Homo sapiens: one gene and its partner. The protein of the gene in region 1 interacts with the protein of each later gene in a pairwise test. Each region holds a gene or a part of one and is shown in the gene's direction. Other genes may lie near its edges.

Evidence for each region.
Region 2: the proteins of C4BPA (region 1) and LBP interact in a two-hybrid assay, tested with the Homo sapiens proteins (one large-scale study listed by BioGRID and IntAct).

Annotation. Positions count from the first base shown.
Region 1 is NC_000001.11:207,121,233-207,124,732, forward strand, and holds part of C4BPA (C4b-binding protein alpha chain precursor), read left to right. Parts: intron 1-2,689; coding exon 2,690-2,775; intron 2,776-2,942; coding exon 2,943-3,134; intron 3,135-3,500. UniProt on the Homo sapiens protein: Controls the classical pathway of complement activation. It binds as a cofactor to C3b/C4b inactivator (C3bINA), which then hydrolyzes the complement fragment C4b.
Region 2 is NC_000020.11:38,366,982-38,370,481, forward strand, and holds part of LBP (lipopolysaccharide-binding protein precursor), read left to right. Parts: intron 1-2,013; coding exon 2,014-2,181; intron 2,182-3,500. UniProt on the Homo sapiens protein: Plays a role in the innate immune response. Binds to the lipid A moiety of bacterial lipopolysaccharides (LPS), a glycolipid present in the outer membrane of all Gram-negative bacteria.

The DNA of each region.
Region 1 (3,500 bases):
TTTAATGATAATTAGCATATTTTGATTATTTTTCTTGTCTCATATACTTCTGTTTTATTAAAATTGCTGCTACATACATATTTTGCTACATAAAGATTCATAGCTCTTCACTGAAAATCAAAATCTTTAACATATAAAGTACCCATTGTGTGTCATTTAATAATCTTGGTTCTGATGTCCAACTTATGGGATATTAAAATTATTATCTTTGGTTTTCTTTTGAATTTGCTTGGTATAATTTTATGCTGTCTTTTATTTTTAATCTGTCTGAAACACTTTTAGGTTTGTCTCCTGTATATAACAGAGCTGAATTTTCTCCAATTAAAAGCTGTTTTTCTTTCATTAGGAGTTTACATTTATTGATGTGAGTGATACTTATAGACTTGGTTTTATCATATTATTTCATATTTTGTTATATATGTATGTGTATATTTATTTTCTATTAAAAATATATGGTGGTATTTAGGAAGGTTCAAAATTTGTTTCTAGTGGTGACCTATATACATTTAAATTTATATAATATCATTATTCCTCTTTATCTTTAGACAGTTTAAATTGGTTCCTTGTTATAAACAACAATAAACTTATCTTGTATTCTTACCCCTCCTTCACCCCTTCTATCTTCCCTACCAGTAAATTTGTATCATTTGTATTATCTTAGTGTTTATTTTGTATTTAACATTAATGTGAAATATTCATATGTGTCTATGGTTGCTTTCATTCTCAACTTTGCAAATGATCAGGCAATAAGGGAATTTATTTTACCCTCTCTTCCCTGTCTCTATTTTTTCTTAGTTATACTATTTCAGTGCTGTCTGAGCATATAACATTTATATTTCCTTCAGTCACACTTAAAATCACATTTGTTTTTTCTTAGATCTGCATGTACAATGTTTGCTACCATTTTTGTTTATTTTGGCTAAAGTTGCCATTGTCATCTCTTGGTTGGCTGTAGTTTGTCCTATGGTGGTTTCCAAAAAAAAGTCCCAAGTGAAAATTATTCTTTGAGTTCTTGCAGGTTCAGATAATATATCTGAGGCATTGATACCTAGAAGATAATGGGGCTTGATATAGTCCTTGGCTCATCCTTTCTTTTCTTGGATGTCTTATAGGTACTGCTGCACTATCTTTTGCTAGTGAATACTACTGATCTGAAATTTCTTCTCATATGGCTTGATCTTTGTTTGACTATCTAAATTATTATTCTTTATCTTTGAAACCTAATACTTTTACTCTTAGTTGTTTTGGTAGAAATCACTTGGTTTAATTTTTTGCTACTATGTGATGTGCAATTTTAATATGTAGATTGACGTATTGTTTTATTTTAGTAACATTTACTTGAAATATATATATTTTTTGAGTCAAGGTCTCACTCCCTTTGCCCAGGCTGGAGTGCAGTGGCACGATCATAGCTCACTGCAGCCTCAACTTCCTGGGCTCAAGCAATCCTCCCACCTCAGCCTCTCAAGTAGCTGGGACTACAGGAGAGCAGCACCATGCCCAGCTGATTTTTGTATTTTTAATAGAGATGGGGTTTTGTCATATTGGCCAGGCTGGTCTTGAACTCCTGGTCTCAAAGAATTCACCTGCCTCAGCGTCCCAAAGTACTGGTATTACAGGAGTAAGCCACCACACCTGGCCTGAAACAAATTTTTAAAAAGCTATTTTGTTCTACTTGGATTCCTTCTTTAGGTTATCCAATTAAGCCTATGTTGATTCTCTTTTGCTTGTTACCTATATCTATTAGTTTTCTCTTATCTTTTCCGTTTGTTTCATTTTTGTTGATTTTCTCATTTTTATCCTCTGTTTTCCTTATTGTGTATGGCTTCCATAAGGGAAAGTGAAAAGAATCAGAACTAAGATGCTGTTGAAACACTAAGGTGTTCCCATTGAAACAACCAGAAACAATATTTTGCACTTAGTCTCTGGGCTAGGTTGGAAAAACTACATTTTAAAGAAATTTTAAAGTAAAGAAATACTTAATTGTAGTTGTAGTTGAGATATATTTTCTTGAAGTTATTATTCAATAAATTCCACAGGCTCTTAGATTGCTGAAGGTGACATTTGCTTTAGTGTTCTATCACATTGTAAGTTTATTCCTTGATGATGCTACAATTTGATATCATTGATGATTATCAATATCCTTGATGATGCTACAATTTGTAATCATTCATATCTTTTGTTTTTTTCTGTTAGCATAAGATAGAGGGCAGGAAGACGAACTGAGGAAAGAGTAGGACATATCAAGAGCCGTAAAAATGGAAGTGGTGAACTGAAAGCTAATGATGTATGGGAATAAGACACCCACCTGGAAGTCAGAGGAAGCTTCAAGCCAAAGATGGGGAGATTGTGGACTCAGTAATCTAGCTGGTACTCTCACCCAGAGACAACCACAGAACACGCTGAAGCCAGCCTTTTATTGTTGTGCTTGAGCTCTGGATGAACTGCATTCCTGATCCCTAGTAGATGCTCAGTAACAGATTAAGGAATGAGGGTCCAAAGGAAAAAACACACGCATCTCATTGCAGTAATGAAATTTTACTGAATGGAGTGCTTAATGGGAAATGATATCCAAGAACATATGATTTCCTTATTTTAATATTGAGTAACAATTCTATTTGCTCAGACCTCTTTAATTTAATTTAGGGTAGGAGGAATTCCATTAAAATCTTTGATCTATCTTATTCAGATTTTTCTTAATTGGCTCAACCACTAGTCGTTGTGAAGTCCAAGATAGAGGAGTTGGCTGGAGTCATCCTCTCCCACAATGTGAAAGTAAGTAAAGACTCTTCTGACTTGACTATCAATTTAAACTCTGTTAGGTAATAAAGTCCCTGTGCATCTTTACAGGTATGTGTACCTTCCATTAGAATTTGCATGAATTTTAGATTTATCATGATGCCTTCGCTGAGTATTTCTTTCTCTTCACTCACTTACCTCAGTTGTCAAGTGTAAGCCTCCTCCAGACATCAGGAATGGAAGGCACAGCGGTGAAGAAAATTTCTACGCATACGGCTTTTCTGTCACCTACAGCTGTGACCCCCGCTTCTCACTCTTGGGCCATGCCTCCATTTCTTGCACTGTGGAGAATGAAACAATAGGTGTTTGGAGACCAAGCCCTCCTACCTGTGAAAGTAAGTCATAATGATGAATTCTGCATCAAAATGTTTGCTCTCTTTTGTTTAAAAGAGAAAGAAAGGTAAATTTATTGGGGGGCAAATGGAAAATTCAAAGATAAACTAACTATCGCTCTGATGCAATCATTTATTTGGCCACCTGATACTTATTGCATGTTTGTTTAGAATATAAAAGCCATAAAAATGGGAGTGGTGAACTGGGAGCTAACAGTATATGGGAACAAACAGCAACAACATCTCACTGGTTTGGTGAAGTAAAAGTTTATTCTCATTTACACTGAGTTTGTTCCATGTCCAGGAGACTCTCCAGGGCAGCCGTAGTCTGTGTTAGCTTAGCAACTAGCTCAGCAAGCCAGGTTGCTT
Region 2 (3,500 bases), on another chromosome or scaffold:
CTAAATAACAGAGGCCACGCCCCATATCTTGTGGGACCACAGCTTGTCCAATCTTTTATTGGTGTTATCTAAGAATCCCAAGGAATGCTGGCATAGTCCATAAAATGTACCCTAATGAACAGCAGCTAACAATTACAGGGGGCTTCCTAGGTGCCAGGCATGTTCTTGGTTCTTTAAAAAATTATTTTTTGGCCAGGCATGGTGGCTCATGCCTGTAATCCCAGCATTGTGGGTGGCCAAGGTGGGTGGATTGCTTGAGTCCAGGAGTTCAAGACCAGCCTGGGCAACATGACGAAACCCCATCTCTACAAAAAATACAAAAATTAGCCAAGCGTAGCGGCACATAGCTGTAGTCCCAGCCACTGGGGAGGCTGAGGTGGGAAGATCACCTGAGGCTGCGAGGTTGAGGCTGCAGTGAGCTGTGATTGCACCACTGCACTCCAGCCTGGGCAACAGAGTGAGACCCTGTCTCAAAAAAAATTATTAAAAATGTTAGTTTTTGAATGGGAAATAAATTCTCAAGGTTCAACATTCAAAAGATCTAGAAGGTTATAGAGTGGAAAGTCTCACATCCACTCCTATTCCCTAACCACCCAGTTCCCATCTCAAGTTTGCCAATATTACCAGATTTTACATATCTTTCTGATGATATTCTATGTATATACAGGTTCACTATCTCTTATCTGAAATGCTTGGAAAAGCAACTCTGCCTACCTTCTTAGTGAAGCATTTTACCCCCTCAGCCTTCCAAATGTCTCCCTTCTAGAAGAGGATGTAGGTTTTACATATACATAACCAAAAGGTTCATGGGAGTGCTGTTTTTCCACGAATAGCCTCCTAAAAAGGAAGAGTCTTGCCCCAAATTAAACTCTGTACCTATCTCTAGTACACAGAAAATTAAGAGCACTTTTGAAATGGTGGAATCTAGGGCTGGTCGTGGTGGCTCACACCTATAATCCTAGCACTCTGGGAGGCCAAAGTGGGGGGGTAGCTTGAGGCCAGGAGTTCAAGACCAACCTGGACAACATAGCAAAACCCTGTCTCTATTTTAGAAAGAAAAGTTAAAAAAGAAAGAAAGAAAGAAAGAAATGTTCTGTGGAATATCATATTAAAAGAGTAATACGAGAAAATTAAATATTTTTTTTAAAAAAGAAATGGTGGGATCCAGCTGTGTCATATTTCGAAAACACTGGCATCTGACCTCAGCATGCCCAATTAGCAGAATGTGATGAGGGGATGGAGAAACCTTGGGAGAGGTAGGGAGGGAGAAAAAATGGGCCCAACTTTTCTGGAGGACAATTTGGCAATACCTGCCGAAAGTTTTAAAAGCATTGCTGGCCAGGTGCGGTGGCTCACACCCGTAATCCCAGCACTTTGGGAGGCTGAGGCGGGCAGATCACCTGAGGTCAGGAGTTCAAGACCAGCCTGGCCAACATGGTGAAACCCCATCTCTACTAAAAATACAAAATTAGCCGGGTGTGGTGGTGCACACCTGTAATCCCAGCTACTTGGGAGGCTGCAGAAGGAGAATCGCTTGAACCCCAGAGGCAGAGGTTGCAGTGAGCTGAGATGGCACCATTGCACTCCAGCCTGGGTGACAAGAGCAAAACTCCATCTCAAAAAACAAAACAAAAAAAGAAAGCATTGCTGTCCTTCAACCCAGCAACTCCACCTCTAGGAATGTTTTCCTGAAAAGAATAGCCAAGGGTGCTCACAGGAGGTGGTCATTATAATGGCAAAACCCTGGAGACAACTTGATGCCCAATAGAGTTTAATCCATCGCAGGACCCATACATAACGAAATACAACACAGCCGTGAAATAGATGGTGCAGACTCTGTGTCTGACATGGAGAGATGGCCAGTTTTGCCACTAGGAGAAAAAGGCACAGAGAATTTTGTTGGAAATAAAATCAATCGAAAGCAACTTCCAGCTTTATCTGACTCCCTCAGGCCTCTCCTGGCAGACTTGTATATTTTCTTCTCTTGATGTAATCTCCTAATTCTGCTCCCAGTTAGCCAGGCTCTACCCCAACATGAACCTGGAACTCCAGGGATCAGTGCCCTCTGCTCCGCTCCTGAACTTCAGCCCTGGGAATCTGTCTGTGGACCCCTATATGGAGATAGATGCCTTTGTGCTCCTGCCCAGCTCCAGCAAGGAGCCTGTCTTCCGGCTCAGTGTGGTAAGGTTCAGAGCCTTTGCAAATGCTGTTTCCTTTTCCCCACATGCTTTTCCCTTTTCCCCACATGCTTTTCTCCCCACTCACCACCTGGGTAATTCCTCCAGGTCTCAACTTAAATATTACTTCCCGAGAGAGGGCTTTCTTGCTGGCCCTTACCCCCAATCTACCTTACGCCCCTTGCCACTTTTTCTTGTAACACCCCATTATCTTTCTTCTCAGCGTTTACTACAAAGATACTTTGTAGCTGTCTGCAGGTGTATTTGTTTAATGCATGTATCTCTCACTATGTGAGTCTGGGCTATTGTGGGGAGAAAGGTATACTGGTGTTTGTCTATTTGTCTATTTTGACCTTGGAAGACTACATTTCCCAAGCTTCTTTGCACTTTGATTTCCACCCAGGTCAACCAATGGGAGGTACTGTCAGGAGAATGATGGCGGGGAGGAAGGATGAAGCCAGAGTACTATTTCCTCTTTCTTTACCACGGCAGAGGCTCTGGCTGTGACTATGTCTCCTCATGGTGACTTCCATAATTCCACCTCCACTCTTTGTTCCTCTAGTCCTGGGGTGGATACAGCCTCCTGTCTCTGGATAATCTCTGGGTGGCCTCACCAACTCTTTACTAGCTTCTCAACAATTCCATCACTTGTATAACCAATTCCCCGTATTAAATTCCCTCTGCGTTAAACATTGAGAGTCAGTTTTCCTTTTTTGATGGACTCTGTCTAATAGGGAAGGGATGTTGGGTCCTTTGGGGGCCTTGCTCCCTGGATGGAGAACTCTGCTCTCTTGTTTCTTGACTTTTGAAATCAACAAGTCAAATCTCTACCAGGGTAATTCTTCCTAGAGGCTATATCTGCAATTTAATATTGTTGTTATTGTTATCAAAAGTGTCATTATTAATATATTTTAAATTAAAATATAATTTACTGTCTGGGTGTGGTGGCTCACATCTGTAATCTCAGCACTTTGGGAGGTCAAGGCAGGAGAATCACACAAGGCCAGGAGTTTGAGAGCAGCCTGGGCAACACAGCAAGACTCCATTGCTACAAAAAAGAAAAAACAAATAGCCAGGCCTGGTGGCATGCACCTGTAGTCCTATCTACTCAGGGGGTTGATGTGGGAGGATCGCTTGAGCCCAGGAGATTGAGGCTGCAGTGAGCCATGATTGCACCACTGCACTCCAGCTGGGCGACAGACAGAGACTCCATCTCTAAAACAATAATAATAATTTATTAATGTTGTTACTAGGGCTGAATCTTGACCTGAGATAACTAGAAATGATCCTTTTTAGAGCTTTCCAAGGGTAGGTACTCTATAC